Linked DNA regions of Homo sapiens: region 1 is linked to region 2. The links come from fine-mapping of genetic effects on gene expression. A gene starts in region 2. The other region holds a variant in brackets. All regions are shown on one strand. Distances are from middle to middle. Region 1 overlaps ANXA6 (annexin A6). Region 2 holds the start of ANXA6 (annexin A6).

Evidence for each region.
Region 1: its variant is fine-mapped to the expression of ANXA6 in whole blood (INTERVAL, PIP 0.97).

Annotation. Positions count from the first base shown.
Region 1 is chr5:151,100,333-151,108,663 of GRCh38, forward strand. ANXA6 (annexin A6) reads right to left here. Exons shown (of 26, transcript NM_001155.5): 23 at 8,123-8,218; 24 at 4,913-4,971; 25 at 3,238-3,360; 26 at 374-1,175. The coding sequence ends at 1,116. Among named protein-coding and RNA genes, the nearest start is that of TNIP1, 23 kb to the left of the region's middle. The variant A/G (reference allele first, on the strand shown) is at 3,202.
Region 2 is chr5:151,154,479-151,162,809 of GRCh38, forward strand. It overlaps ANXA6 (annexin A6), which reads right to left and starts at 3,301. Exons shown (of 26, transcript NM_001155.5): 1 at 3,202-3,301. RefSeq lists an enhancer at 3,462-4,318 and a silencer at 4,114-4,173.

The DNA.
Region 1 (8,331 bases), 54 kb before region 2:
GCAGTTGCGCCTACTTGCTTATCAGTGACCTGCATGAAGGAAACTTTCCATGCACCTCTCCAGATCAAGATCACATCGGGCACCCTTGCATAGTTCAAAAGAGGAAGTTTGGGCTTGGTTGAAATGGATGAAGAGCATACAGAAATGTCCAGACAGCGAGAGGGGATGAGGGGGAACCTGAGGCCCGGAGCAGGGCTGGGCCAGCCTTCCCAGGCTTGCTGCAAACTCAGATTCTCCTGTGCGCTTCCCGGGAAACACCTTGCAAGAATTTAAAGACGTAACTCGCTCCTGGACAGACTTTACAACCTCAAGCTCTAATGAGGAAAATCCAGGCTGCAGGCTCTAGGTAGAAGACAGAGGCCCTCACTGGAAATGTGTTTATGTGTTTGTGTATCTCTTTTTATTTCTTCCTTAGAAATAAAAAGTGTCAAGGGAATGAATCGGAGGCATACTTTAGGAAGTTAATGTTAGAAGGGAAGCCAAGATTTTTTTGTCCAACTGTCTCATTGTAGATAAGAAAATAGAGACTCAGGGAGGGAAAGGGGCTGGCCTAAGGTCAGAAACAAGTGCATGGCAGATGCAGATTTGAACCCAGGCATCCAAATTCCTGGTCCAGTACTCTAGCGCGGCCTGGATGGAGATGGGTGGTGAAATGGATGGGAAGATTTGTCAGTTTGCCCCAGCACATTTACTATCCTTCCCACCACCCCGCCCAGCACATTCAACTGGCCCCTGCCACCAACCCCCTCATTCAAAGTACAGACACTACTCATTTTACAGACAGAGGTTCAGGATGTTTTTGGATCTGACATAGCCCAAACCAGGGCAGAGGCTGTAGCAAGGGGAGGAAGCTGGGAAAGCCTGAGGGTCAGAGGGGAGTGGAGGTGGACAGGATCTATGGCTACGGTTTTTCAGCCGCTCAGCCGTGCTGGGCCCTCGATGGCCCGTGGGAGTGGGAGCGTTTCCTAAGCTCCACTGAAGATAAGAGCCCAACCCAACCCCTCCCCCCACCCCTGCCCCTTCCTTAGTCTCTGGAGCTGGAACAATCAGGCTTGGCCATGGCGGCTGGTGCTGATAACCATTTCTTGGCAGAAGTGCCCGCCAAAGCTGTGGCCCTAGTCCTCACCACCACAGAGAGCCAGCAAGGCCTTCAGGAAGTCTCCGGAGGTGTCACCCTGGCAGAGGCAGAGAGCAGAGTGAGTGAAAACAGTCCTTCCAGTCTCAATGCCCCCTCCTCCCGGCTGCCCATCTGTCTGGACATCTCCCTCGGCTTCTCTCCATGACCAACATAGGATCCCATGCCACATGTAGGCTACTGGGATCTCCCAGACACATAAATGTGACCACGTCCCTTTTGTTTATCCCCAGGAAGATATGCAAGCTCCCGGCCTGGCTTCAAGGCCCTTTGGGATCTGACCTGTGCAGAGCTCTGCAGCTTCACCTGTTCCTTTCCCCCAGGAGCATCTCAGTCCTCTCTCCACCTGTCACTCCCCTGTCCAACATGCCCCTGTGCACCCCCAATCCCATTTGCCAGCAGGGCCCTCTCCTCTGAGAAGCACTCTGGCCACTCTCTTGCGTCAGGAGGCACAGTGAACTCTGGCCTCCCTTGGTTCCCCTGGCACTCTGCTGATACCCTCCCCCATGGCCCTTGGCATATCGTGTTAGGTGATTTCTTATTTGAACAAACAACATTGAGTGCTAACTGCCAAGCCATTGCTGGGAATGGGTACAAACACCATCACGCTCACCACACATCACAGTGGTCTGGTATACGTTCAGACTGGGGAGGCCAAACTTCCTGACCCATGGTATGGTATGGATCTCCCTTCTGAGGGACTCCTATCATTGTTATGAGACATGGTTTTCGGGATTTTGTTTGTCCTTGTATTTTTTGATGTATGATTTTAAAACATAATATAGTATCAAAATGTGCCAACAATTTACTTACATTCCTACTAAGTCTGTAAGAGACTGCCTCTGAGATGCCCATAGTCTCGTTAGCCAAGTAGAACCAAGCATCAGACTTTAAGATCTTGGCTGATCTCAAAGAGCAAAAATATAAGCTCCATATGTCAAAAAAGTCAGACGCAGCCAGGTGTGGTGGCTCACACCTGTAATCCCAGCACTTTGGGAGGCCAAGGCAGGTGGATCACTTGAGGTCAGGAGCTAGCAACCAGCCTGGCCAACACAGTGAAACCCTGTCTGTACTAAAAATACAAAAATTAGCCAGGCATAGTGATGCATGCCTGCAGTCCCAGCTACTCGGGAGGCTGAGGCAGGAGAATTGCTTAAACCCAGGAGGTGGACGTTGCAGTGAGATGAGATGGCACTGCTGCACTCCAGCCTGGGCGACAGAGCAAGACTCCGTCTCAAAAACAAACAAACAAACAAAAAGTCAGACACAAAGGGTCACATATTAGGTGATTCCATTTATATGAAATATTCAGAAAAGGCAAATCTACAGAGACACAAAGTAGCTTGGTGGTTGCCTATGGCTGGGGATGGAACTAGATAAACAGGTATGAGAGAGCTTAGTGGGATGATAGAAGTGTTTGGAAACCAGCTGCATTATGGGAATGGTTGTACAACTCAGTAAATTTACTAAAAACTGTTGAATTGTACCCTTAAAACAGGTGAATTTTATGATATGTAAGTTTTTCGTTTGTTTGTTTGTCTGTTTTTGAGATGGAGTCTTGCTCTGTTGCCCAGGCTGGAGTGCAGTGGCGTGATCTCAGCTCACTGCAACCTCTACCTCCTGGGTTCAAGCGATTCTCTTGCCTCAGCCTCCTGAGTAGCTGGGATTACAGGCATGAGCCAACACACCCAGCTAATTTTTGTATTTTTAGTAGAGACAGGGTTTCACCATGTTGGCCAGGCTGGTCTTGAACTCCTGACCTCAAGTGATCCACCTGCCTTGGCCTTCCAACGTGCTGTGATTACAGGTGTGAGCCACCATGCCTGCCCATGATATGTAAGTTATACTTCCATAACATTGCTTTAAAAAAAGCAAAAAATGGGCTCTTGTTTTATTTGGAAATCTTTAATTATAAACCTTTGATTCTTTTGGAATTGATTTCGGTATAAACAATGCAATACAGACCCCCTTTCATTTCAATATCCTGGCTGTTCTAAGCGGTAACCCACTGGAAAAAAGTCCATGGGAATAAAGACTTCTAATCTTATATTAGGGATCTGACACTC[A/G]CCCGCTTCCTGCTAACCTCTAGCCCCTCCCCTTACCTCAATGGCTTGGTGGAGAGACTTGTCATATTTCTCAATGAATTCCCTCCGGATGTTGAGCAGGTCAATCTCACTGCGGGATACCATGATCCTGGTCAGAGTCTTCTCATCTGTGCCAGCACCCTGGTGGAGCCAGGCAGGAGGGAGACACAGGCGGAAGGAGAGATAGAGCCCAGTCAGGCAAGAAACAGTGGTATCCCATCTGCCTTTCTCCCTTGTTCCTTCCAAAAACAGGGCGGATGTTCCACCTCTGTCTTCTGCAAACAGTCCTGACCAAAATCCCTCTGTGCCCAGGACTGGCCAGACTGACACGCAAAAAAGATGTGTGTGGGTTGAATAGTGTCCCCATGTCCACCTGGAAACTCAGAACATGATGTAATTTGGAAATAAGGTATTTGCACATGTAATTAGTTAAGATGAAGGCATACTGAATTAGATTGAAGCCTAAACCAATAACCAATATCTTTAGAAGAGGGAGGGCACAGACATACACACAGAAAAGTGGCTAGGTGAGGACAGAGGCAGAGACCGGAGTGATGCATTCACAGCCAGGAAACACCAAGGACTTCTGGCAACCACCAGAAGCTAGGAGAGGCAGGGGAGTGCTTCTCCCCCAGAGCCTCCAGGAGGACCCAACCCAGGCGACACCTTGATTTTGGGCTTTTGGCCTCCAGAACTATGAGAATAAATTTCTTTTGTCACCCAATTTCTGGAATGTGTTACACCAGCCCTAGGAAACTACCACCGGGCCCAAGGAGCAGGCACAGGGCATGGAATGTGTGGGCAGCCAGAGCTGCCTCTGCCCCCAGGGAGCGACAAGCACCAGCCTAGGAGTCAGAGCTAGGTTCGAGTCCCAGCTCTGCCTCTTAGGAGCTATGTAAATGTGGGCAACGTTTTACCCTACCTAGGCCTGAGTTTCCTCCTCTATCAAATGAGGATGCTACCACAATTTCACAGGACTGCCATGAGGGTCAGCTGTGGTCAGAGAGATGAAGCCCTTGGCACAGGCTTGACACATCGTGAGTGCTCAATGAATGGCTGTCACATTTGGAGACTGTAGGGTGAGGGTCTCAGGTTCCTTCCTACCCTCCCACCTGCCCAGGCTATCTGCAGTTGAGACTCCAGTGGCTGAGAGGGTGGCCAGTGTGGCTTGGGCTCTCCCAGAAGGGCAGGACTAGACTCAGAGGGGAGCGCTTGTGACCTTTGATGACTATTTGTCCTAGGAGACCCTGTGTCCCCGGATAGATTGTGAGCTCTGAGAGGGCAGAGACTGTGTCCTACCCAGCCCTGTGTGCCTCCAGAGCACATTTCTCAACCTTGGCATTTGGGGCTGGATAATTCTTTGTTGCGCAAGCTTATCCTTTGCACTGAGGTTGTTTAACAGCATCCCTGTTCTGTCCCCACCAGATGCTGGTAGCAACAATCTCCAAGTTGTGATGACCAAAAATGTGTCTGGATATTGCCAAATATCCTCCGGGGCGGGGGAAGGCGGGGGAAATCACCCCCAACTGGGAAATACCATCCTAGAGCCAGACAAGGGCAGATGCTAATAAATGTCAAATGGGAAGAAACAGCTGCCAGGAATCCTGATCTGGGGGATGGTGCACATCTGTGTGTTTGTGTGTGTATGTAAGTCAGTGCTTGAAGGGAAAGGAACGCCAGCATGTTTTCTTACCTTCATGGATTTGTAAAGTTTGTCGGCAAAGAAGAGAGGCTTGTTCTTGACACTTTGAACTGGTAGGAAGAGCAGAGAGATGCGGGGAACGTGGTCAGAGGCTGTGAACCCAGACTCTGGACCGGCCTCCCCCATCTCCCCACCTCGTCTATCCCTGCATGGGTCTGCAGATCATTGTCAACCCCAGGGTCATGCTCAGACGACACCTTTGCTCCCCTTCCCCATGCTTCCTCCTCTGGCCCATCCTTAGGCCTGGCTCTCAATTGGTTGCAACTCTCTTCCTTCTAAGGTGCTTACAGCTAACCAAGGTCAGGAGAGGATTCAAAGGTAATTAACTCCTCATGAACCCAAGGCACGGGGCCTCAAATTTTTAAATGCATTGGAATCACCCAAAAAGCTTGTTTAAAACTCAGGGTTTAGGCTCCACCCTAAAGATTCAGATTTTGGAAAGATTTTGAGCAGTGGTTCTCAAAGTGTGGTTTCCGGACCAACAACATTAGCATCACTTGAAAACTTGGAAGAAAGGCAGATTCTCATGCCTCAGATTCCAGATTCCAGAGATGCTGAATCTGAAACTCTAGAGGTGAGTGACCAGCTTGTCCTAGTTTGCCTGGGACACTCCAGGTTTTATTAGGTTGGTGCCAAAGTAATTACAATTTTTGCCATCACTTTCAATGGCAAAACTGCAATGACTTTTGCACCAACCTAACAGCACTGAAAGCCTTGCGCAAATCAGGATGGTTGGCCACCCTACTCTGGTGCAGCCTAATGCTTGAGAGTTACTGATTTAGAGAAATATTGCTCCAAAGAATGACTGTCCGTTGGTAAAATTTAAGGGACCATGCAAATCCCTGGGGCTGAGTGTTTCCCCAGGGCCTGAACAATCTTGCAGGATTGGCAGCCCCTGCTCCCTACCCTGGCTGCAGATAATGCCTGCCTGGTTTCACCAACCCCGCCCTTTCTCAAAGCCTAGGGTTCTCTAGCCCTTCACAGCTGCTTGACTGCAAGGCTCCAGAGCCCACGCACAGGTGTCTCAGACAGCTTAAAAAGGAGGAACCAGACACCAGTACTATAGCTGGAATGACTCTGGATATAATGAGAACAGACGGCAAGAGGCTGGAGTTGCGTACCCCAGTGGCAGAGTCAAGCAAGACTCCTCTGCAACAGGCTCAGGAACCCTGTGGAAAAGATCACATCACACACCTCCCATCTCCAGCTCCTTACATATCTCCCTACTACCTCCCAAACAAATCCCAAGCTCCTTGGCTTGAATGTCAAAGCTCCTGGCCTCCTTTGCAACCTCATGGCCCTTGCTCCCCCATTCCCAGAACAAACTGCAAATTCCTGTGTCTCTCTGTCCTTCCTGGATAGATGCATTTCCTATCTGCCCTTCACTACATTATCTCTCTAAATCAAATCCCATCCTTCAAGGCTGTACTTGATGTCCATGCCCCCAGTCATGACATCACCTCCAGGAAGCCTTCCCTGACTTCAGACCTAGGGCTTTATCAGTCTGGCTAAGAAGCACGCTGGGCAGAAACTTCTCTCCTCTGTAACCAACCCCACAAGTCTTCCTAAAAACTGAGCCTGTCCATCTGTCACATGGGACCCCGATGCCTGCCATTGGATGGAGGAGTGTGAAATGGTGTGTTGTGGTGTGTGTTTGCACGTGTATACCTGTTCAAGGTGGGAGGAGAAAGGGAAGAGGGAAATACACGAGGAGGGTAGGAATCTGAAAGTGTCTCCAAAGGCTAATTATTCTGGTGTTAAGAACATGAGCTTTGGAGGTAGGCAGCCTGTGGTTTGAGTCCTGGTTCTACTGCTATAAGCCTCTCTGAACTCAGTGTCCTCTTTTGTAAAATAAGCTGGTTAAGAGCACCTGATGAGAATGTAACTAAACCTGCGTGCAACTAACTTTGCGCAGGGCTTGGTGGGAAACAACAATACAAATACAAACTAACCCTTGTCCAGTGAGTATTACATGCCAAGAGGCACCGTTCCAAGTGCTTTACATATAATTAACTAATTTCAGCCTCACAAAATCCACCCTATGGGCTGGGCACTGTTGTTATCTCCACTTTACAAAGGAGGAAATTGAGACACAGAGGTTTTGTGACCTGCCCAAGGACATATAGTGAGTAAGTGGCAGAGCAGGGATTCAACCTGGATTCCATGCTTTTATTCGTCGGGCTATCCCGCCTCCTAGATATTGCTCCTGGGTGGTAAAGGCCCATCACGTGCTAAACAACACCCCTACCACCACCTCTACTTCACCCAAATCTAACACACCTTTCCCCCACATTTTAGTGTCTCTGAAATCAAGATGTGTTTTATAATTGAAGGCAATTATGTGAAAATCTTCCACGGATACCTCTTGGTAAGATTTTTTAAAAGTGCATTGATGCAATGTGTTTTATAGTAAATGAAACAAGATACCACTAATGATGAATATTAATGAGAATAACTTCAGCCCTAACCCATATCCACTCATCCATATTTATACACGGTGGAATTAAGATCCAAAAGGGAAAAACCTTTTCAAAGTCAAGAGCTCAAATTATATAAGCGTAACCAAAAAGCCAGGTACTGAGAGGAGACGAGGGTCTGTGTGTGTGTCATCTGCATCTAGCGTGTATGTGTCTTGTATGTGTGTGCATGTGTGCTGCGTATATGTGGTGTGCATGGGTCATGTGTGCATAGTGTGTGAGTGGTGTGTGTGTAGGTGTAGTGTCTTGTGGGGGTGTAGCATGTATGTGTATATATAATGTGTTCTGTGTGTGATGTGTGTATGTGTGGTGTGCACCTGTCACATGCATATGTAACGTGTTTTATGTATGAGTGTGTGTCACATGTGAGAATGTGTGTGTGTATAGTATGTGTCTTGTATATGTTAGGTGTGTGTGTCAAGTGTGTGTGTGGTGTGTGTGTGTATACACCCTAGTTGTGCAGGACAGCGTGCCCCCTCCCCTGCCTGCCCCAGTCTTCCTGGTTCTTCCCTAGCAACAGTTATTTTCTCACCCTCTCCTGCAGCCTCGCACAGACCTCATGACATTCCTGCACAATCACACATTTGGCAGCACCCCTGGAGGCGAACTGTGACAGTGTTTACTTTCCAGTAGTAGCTTCGGAGGCTGCCAAGGTTCTATTCTTCCAGAGAATCTGTTCAAGTTCCCAGTGCCCCCAGCCCTTCCCTTAGTCCCTGCCAGTTACCAATGGCCACAAATGCATCCCTGACATCCCCAGACATCTCCTTCTTGATGGTGTGCTCCACGTCATAGTTGGTCATCTTGATGAACTCCTGGAAGACTGGCCACAAGAGAAGCCCCAGAGGTGGGGGTGAGCTTCAGTGCAGGAGGCGGAGGACCCCTCCTCAGCCCCACCCAGTGCCTCCCACAGGCTGTGCCTGAGAAAGTGGAAGG
Region 2 (8,331 bases):
CGTCCTGGGGTATATCCATCCCACTTAGAAGGCCCCTGGCCTATAAAATCTAGATCCTTCCCTCTTTGCCCTTTCTTGCTGGCTTCTCCCCCGGTCTGCAGGAAGACACCCAGGACCCGCTCCATAACCCTCCAGGAGCCTTGATTCTGATGAAGCTGGGGTAAATGCCTTCCCTGGCTCTGTGCGTGGGCACACCCCCCAGCTTGACGACTGGGGTTTCTTAGGGAGCAGTGTCTTTTCCTCTCCTGACCCAGAACCATTGATCCTAGGACTGGACAAGGCCTCAGGAGATCATCTCTCTGCCTCAGGATTGGAACTAGTCTAGCCTAGGTTTGAACCCCAGCTTGGGTCACTTTTGTGAGAGGCAGCAAAGTAGTGTCTCACAGTATAGATGCTGGAGCCAGACTGCCTGAGATTGAAGCCTGAGGGTGATATTTAGTAGCTGTGTGGTGTTGTGCAAGTATTGAGCCTCTCTGTGCCTGTTTCATATTAAAAAAAAAAAAAAGGGATAAAAATAGCACCTCCCTCATAGGAGTTATGATGAGGATAAAAAAAATTAAGACAAGTCTAGAGCTTAGAAGAGGACCTGGCACACAGGAAGCACTATATTTTATAAGCATTTGTCATTATTATTTCTTCCTTAAACTGTTAAGGGCTGGAGTTTCCATGTCTGCAAAATAGGCATTAATAACAGCGTCTAACATAGCAAGGCTTCAGCCGGGGCCTGGCAAATTTAAGGGTTCGAGAGGTAATAGTGGTTACCATTTTATTGCTATTATTTAAGGACCACCAGGACATGGATTTTTCAGAAGAGGAACTTGAGGCTCAGGTCGCCTGCCTTCTCAAGCACCACACCCTTTTGAGATAACACAGCACTTTTATATCTGCCATCTTACAGCCTCATGAAGGTATCGATCTCATTCTCATTTTGCAGATAGGCAGGACATCCAAGGAACCTATAGACAGTCACTCCCCCATAGCCAGTCTCTGTGGGGGCTTCTCAACTCCAGGAGGAAAGGGAGTGAGGCTGGATTCCAAGGCAAGTTTATAGGCATAAAGACACCCCTCCGACTTCCTCCCCTCTATTGGCAGGAGAAGGGGTGCATGCATGCTCAGGAATCACGGTAGAGACCACATCCTGTGCTTTGTCGCCACCCAGGAAGTATATCGGAGAGGCTGGGTGGGGTGAGGCTGGTGATTCCACTGGGCCTCCCCAGAAAATCCTAGAATGGTAGAGCAAAAGCCATTCAGACCCAACCCATTTTATTAATACCAGTGGGGTGTCCTGGGTATATGTCCTATCCCTGTAGAGAGGAAGGGGCTAAGCCCCAGAGGGGTAGTAGGTGTGCCCAGGGCGCCTAGCTGATTAGTGGCAGGGCAGGGGCTGGGTCCGAGGCTGGATCCTGGTGGCCCAGGGCTCCCTCTGGATGCTGCAGTGCGGATGTGCCAGTCACTGGCAGCTATCCAGCACTGCAGTCTCCCCCACTTCATCCCAGGAGTCAGTCTCAAGAGGCCAGGCCTTGGGCTTCCCTGGCCCCTCCTCTGCACACTCACATCTACATTTTGCCCCAGCAACAGCTGTGGCCCTTATCCAGAAACTGCAAGTATTTTCTGTATCTCAGCAGATGCTGCCTTAGGAACAAAGGGTAGATAAGGCAAAGAAAGATGGATGAGTGATTGTCACAGCTGCAGAGGGGGATGAAAGCCTCTGCCTCCTGCCCTCCCCAGTCCCATCCAACTCCCAGAATCCTAAATCTTAGAACAGTTGAATCCTAGAATGTCTGCACTGGCAGTGGCAGCCAGTTCAGCAGACTTTGCTCCAGATGGGGCACAAAGCCTTAGAGAAAGGGCTTGCTCAAGAAGTCCCAGCACATCCGGACTGTAACCGGGCTTTCCTCTGACCCCAGGCCAGTGCCCTCGGCGTGGCTCAGGGCCTGCCTGCTAGGAGGTCAGGGTCCACAGGGGCTGAAACTGGGGCGGTCATTCACTTCACCATGAAGGGCTACGCAGGTCAGGATATGCCATCTGGGTCAGTGGAAGCAATCCCAAGCATGTTTTGGGCAAGGGGGAAGGAATAATGGAGGGAAAAGGGCGGACTCTTGGGGGGAAACCAGAGTCCTTTCACAAACCCGGGAGCCATATGTCCAAATTTGGAATTGTCAGAGAAGACCCACTAGAATCTAGGGAAAGGAAGGAGGAGGCAGGAAGCCGTGGCCAGATTAGTTGTCCCAAAGGACCTCCTGCCCTTTCCCCTTGTAGGGCCTACAAGGGTTGTGCCAGGCTTCCCAAATCTATAATCAAGACTCCCAAACCTGCAATCATTCCATACAGCTGACAAATAAATCAGTTTTCAAAGCCATTGTTTCCTTTGAAAGAGACTGGGTTTCTCAACTATGGACTTGGAGAAGGAAATCCAGGCTCAGAGAGGGAAAGCCACCGCCCAAAGTCACACTGCAACAGGGGCTGGGATTCCGATTCAGGGTATTTTGCTCCCATGCTGGTATATGGGGAATTATTTGAAGCCCCCAAACTTTGGGAAGGCCTAGACCGCTTAGGGGATGCAGAAAGAAGGGTAGTGCCCCTGCCTCACCATAGGAGGCCTCGGAGCCCCGTTGGGAGACTGCATTCATAGACAAGCAGTGGCCCAAAGGGGATGGGGTCCAATGAGGCCCTGAGGTATGTACGACCGGACGTTCAGCTCTCTGCACGCAGGCAGCCCTCCCCCGACACCACACACAAGCCATTTTATAAGCAGCTGGAGGGTCCAACGCTCTTGCTCTCAGTCTTGGGCCTCAGCCACACCCTTCTCTGCGGGTCCTTTGACTGGCGTCCAGCTGACCCCAACCCCGGACCTTCAAAGTCTCTTGAGCCCCCCCAAATTAAGGCCGGCAGGACCAGCCCCTGGCTCAGCTCCGGCGCCCAGGACCCTCAACCAGACCCTCTGCAGCAACGGGACTCCCTCCCCTCCCCCTAGCCAGGGCGCCCTCCGCCCGCGCCTCTCCGCCCCGACCCCAGATTTGCTCCGCTGCGCTCCCCAGACACACCCAGTCTGCGACACTCTCGGGTTACCGCGCCCTCCCGTCCCTGCTCCTGGCGGGGGGTACCCATCAGCCGATGACTGGGCGCTTATTTCTTGTGTCCCTGCAGCCCCCGGGAAGGGGTTCCCAGAGCGACTCCCCTCTCCAGCCTCAGCCCACTCACCGCGCAGCGGAGGCCTCGGGTCGCAGACGGACGCACGGGCGCAGGGACTCGAGGACGCAGCGCTCGCTGGATCGGAGCCCGTTAGCCCAGCAGCAACCGCAGCGCGGGGCGGACCGGGAGGACAGCCGTGGGCTCCGAGCCGGACACGTGGCGCGCAGAGGCCAATCCGGCGCGCCCGCCTCCCTCCTCCACCCCACCCCTCTAGCTCCTTAGCTCTTGGAATCTTAGAATGTCACTAGCCCGAGGGGCTTGCCGGGAGAACCTCCTCAGTTTCCAGCCCCCGGATCTGAGACTGAGAAGGATTAGGGGCTTTGGCCAAGGTCACGCGGCCCTTCAGGGCTAGAAGTCAGGGCTCCTGACTCCGGGTTCTGGACACTTTCCCGCAAATTCTTATAAGTCGCCAAAGCTTTGTTGAGAAACAGAAAATTGAGGTTTGCCAGGGGCACTTTATCTGCCTGATCAGATTCCATGCCTCAACAGCCTCATTAGGTCGGTGACATTATTTACCCACTTTCAGGAGGAGAGCCCAGTCCAGTTCCTGGACCAAGGTCACACAAATAGTGGGTTGCGGAGGCAAGCTTCTTCGTGCTCTGGGAAGCAGGGAAGGCAGGCAGGGAGACCAGCAGTTGTAATCCAGCGCTAGAACAGGAAAAATTGATAAACTGAGAATACAGAGGAAACTGAGAATTATTGTCCCCAGGGGATTGGTAAGGAGAAGATGAGGAAGTTAGAAGAATTGGACAGATACCTGCGGAAAGTGTTCCAGGCAGAGGAAACTGCTGGAGCAAATGCTCCTAGCAGGAGGCCACCTGGCGCCTCCGAGGATCAGCAGGGGGGCCAGTGTGGCTGGAATGGAGTGAGTGGGAGGGAGAGGAGAGATAAGAGGGACCCAATCAGGTGGGACCTCCGGGGCCCTTGAAGGCACGCTGTCTTTTACTCTGAGTCAACTGGGGATCCATTGCAGGATATTGAGCAAAGAAAGGGTATTATTTTTGGGTAGATGAAATCCACACAACATAAAATTAACCATTTTAAAGTCAACAATTCAGTGGCATTTTGTACAGACACAATGTTGTGTATCCACCACCTCTATCTAGTTCCAAAATATTCTCTTCACGGAAAAATAAAACAGTATACCCACTGAGCAGTCACTCCTAACTTTCCCTTACCCCTCGTCTCTGGCAACCACCAATTTGCTTTCTGCTTCTGCGGATGTGCCTATTCTGGATATTTCATATACATGGAATCACATGAGATGCAACCCTTCTTGTCTGACTTCTTTCATGTGGCATTTTGTTTGTTTGTTTTTGTTGTTGTTTTTTCACTCTTGTCGCCCAGGCTGGAGTGCAGTGGCGTGATCTCTGCTCACCACAACTTCTGCCTCCTGGGTTCAAGCAATTCTCCTGCCTCAGCCTCCCGAGTAGTTGGGATTACAGGCATGCGCCACCACACCCAGCTAATTCTGTATTTTTAGTAGAGACGGGGTTTTTCCATGTTGGTCAGGTTGGTCTTGAACTCCCGACCTCAGGTGATCCACCTGCCTCGGCCTCCCAAAGTGCTGGGATTACAGGCGTGAGCCACCGTGCCTGGCCTCATGTGGCATGTTTTTGAAGTTCATCCACACTGTAGCATGTATCAGCACTCCATTCCTTTTTTTTTTTAGTTTCAGTTGGAGTTTTGCTCTTGTTGCCAAGGCTGGAGTGCAATGGCGTGATCTCGGCTCACTGCAACCTCCACCTCTCAGATTCAAGGAATTCTCCTGCCTCAGCCTTCCGAGCAGCTGGGATTACAGGCATGCACCACCACGTGTGGCTAATTTATTTTTGTATTTAGTAGAGATGGGGTTTTACCATGTTAGTTAGGCTGGTCTCGAACTCCTGACCTCAGGTGATCCACCCGCCTTTGCCTCCCAAAGTGCTGGGATTACAGGCATGCGCCACCGTGTCCGGTCCAGCACTCCATTCCTTTTAATGGCTGAATAATTTTCCGTTGTATAAGTACACTATAATTTGTTTATCCATCCATCTGTTGATGGATAGTGCATTGTTTCCCCCTTTTGCTGATTGTGAATAGTGCTGCTAATGAACATTTGCATACAAATACTTATTTGAGTACCTGTTTTCAATTGTCGTTGTGTATTTACCTAGGAATGAAACTGCTGGGTCATATAGTAATTCTACATTTAAGTTTTTGAGGAACTGCCAAACATTTTTTCAGAGTGGCTGCAACATTTTATATTCCCATCAGCCATGTCATGTATGAGGCTTTTAATTTCTCCATGTCCTTGCCAACACTTGTATTTTATTTTTTAAAAATTTGTACCCGGCCAGGCACAGTGGCTCATGCCTGTAATGCCAGTACTTTGGGAGGGCCGAGGTGGGTGAATTGCTTGAGCCCACGAGTTTGAGACCAGCCTGGACAACATGACGAAACCGCATCTCTACAAAAAATTAACCAGGGGTAGTGGCACATGCCTGCAATCCCAGCTACTGGAGAGGCTGAGGTGGGATGATCCCTTGAAGCTGGAAGGTAGAGGCTGCAGTGAGCCGTGATTGCACCACTGCACTCCAGCCTGGGCGACAGAGTGAGAACTTGTCTCAAAAAAACAAAAGTACAAAAAACTTGTGCTCTAGTCATTATGAAATGGCATCTATAATTGTGTTTTTGATTTGCATTTCCCTTCTGACTAATGATGTGGAGTATCTTTTTTGTGTGCTCATTGGCCACTATTTGTACATCTTCTTTGGAAAAATATCTAATCATGCTTTTTGCTCATTTTTAAATTGGATTTTTTGTCTTTTTTGTTGTTAAGTTATATGAGTTCTTTTTATATTCTGGATAAGACTTTTGTGTTTGTTTGAGACAGAGGCTCGTTCTGTTGCCCAGGCTGGAGTGCAGTGGTGCCATGTCGGCTCACTGCAACCTTCACCTCGTGGGTTCAAGCAATTCTTTCCGCCTCAGCCTCCCAAATAGCTGGGATTACAGGCACCTGCTACCATGCCCAGTTAATTTTTGTATTTTTTTAGTAGAGACGGGGATTCATCATGTTGGCCAGGTTGGTCTTGAACTCCTGACCTCAGGTGATCCACCTGCCTTGGCCTCCCAAAGTGCTGGGATTACAGGTGTGAGCCACCGCACCTGGCCAAGACATATTTTTTAAAGGGTCACTGAAGTCTCCTGTGTTGGAAATACTGAATACTGTTGGGGGAAGAGTAGAAGAAGGGGATCTGCTAGGAGATTTTGCAGTAATCCAGGCAAGAGACAGGCTGGTATAAATGCAGGTGGGGGAAGTGGTTGGAGATGGGATGTATTTGAAGGTTGAACATGATTTCCGAAGGATCAGGTGGGAGATGAGAAAGAGTCAAGAATGGCTTCAGGGATCCTGGCCTGAGCCACTGGAAGGATGGAGTTACCATCAACTGAAATGAGCAAGACTGCAGGGAAAGCAATTTTGGGAATTAGAAGTGGGGAAAAGATCAGGAGTTCAGTTTTTGACCAGTTTGTTGAACATTTCTATTAGACACCCAACAGGAGATGTCAAGTACGCAGTTGGCTAGTCAAGTCTGGAGTTCAAGAGATGAGATCCTTAAGGGAGAAGAGAACTAAATATGGAGTCCTAGTTCGGCAAAAGGAGTCAGGCTGGCAGGACCAAGGGAAAGCAAAAAGAGAAAGCAGATAAGCTATAAGTCTGCCTTTCTTCATGGCCCAGGATGCATAGCCCTCCTGTGCGAATAACTCACAATCTTATCTGCGCCCAGCTATTGCCAGACCCTCACCTGATAGAAAAATGCACGCAAGCTCCCTGCACCCTTGATGTTATCAGTACTGCACAAAGCCCTCTTCAGCACACAGCACAAGCACCATCCTATAAAATCCTTAGCCAGATTTTGTTTTCTTGCAGTTAGCTTCTGTTTTGCTAACTTGCCCGTTGCACCCTTGCAACGTATTTTCTTTTCTTTTCTGTTTTTCTTTTGAGATGAAGTCTCACTCTGTCGCCCAGACTGTAGTGCAGTGGCACTATCTCGACTCACCACAACCTCCGCCTCCCGGGTTCAAGCGATTCTTCTGCCTTAGGCTCCTGAGTAGCTGGGATTACAGGTGCGTGCCACCACACCTGGCTAATATTTGTATTTTTAGTAGAGATGGGTTTTCACCATGTTGATCAGGCTGGTCTCAAACTCCTGACCTCGTGATCCACCTCGGCTTCCCAAAGTGCTGGGATTATAGGCATGAGCCACCACGTCTGGCAGCAATGTATTTTCATACTTTCTCTAATAAATCTGCCTTTCTTTACCTACAACTGCCTTGGTAAATTCTTCTTACTGCCTGTACCGCCAGCCCCAAATAGTTGCTGATCACCCACGATGCTAAGGACCGAGTCTGAGACACTCTTATGTTACCATTTGGGGAGAGGCCGGACCCGGTGGCTCATGCCTGTAATTCCAGCACTTTGGGAGGCTGAGGTGGGTGGATCACTTGAGGCCAGGAGTTCAAGACCAGCCTGACCAACATAGTTAAACCCCATCTCTACTAAAAATACAAAAAGTTAGCTGGACGTGGTGGTGCATGCTGTAATCCCAGCTACTTGGGAGGCTGAGGCAGGAGAATCACTCCCAGGAGGTGGAGATTGCAGTGAGATGGCACCATTGCACTCCAGCCTGAGAGACAGAGTGAGACTCTCAAAAAATAAAATAAAAGAGTTGGGGAGAAGAAAAGAATTCAGCAAAGGTGACTGGGAAGGAGATTGTAGTAAGATGGGAGGAAACTACCCCAGGAGAATGTGGCAGCAAAGTGAAAAATAAGGGAGTGATCAGGTGTGTCAAATGCTGCTTTTAGGTAAAGTAGGACAAGGTCTACAAATCTATCATTGGGTTTAGCAATGTGAAAGCCAACTTATCTCTTGCTGTGAATTGCAGAATGTTGGGGGTAAAGGCCTGATGGGAACGGTGTAAGATAAAAAGCCTAAACTACTTATTCTGGGAGTTTTGCTGCGAAGGCCAGCAAGGGAATGAGGCAGTGTCTGGCAAGGGAATTGGTGTCAAGAGAAGGGCTTTTGTTTGATTTTTTTAAAGATTGAAGACATAACAGCATATTTGTATGCTGGTGGGAGTTATCATATAGAAGGTAAAA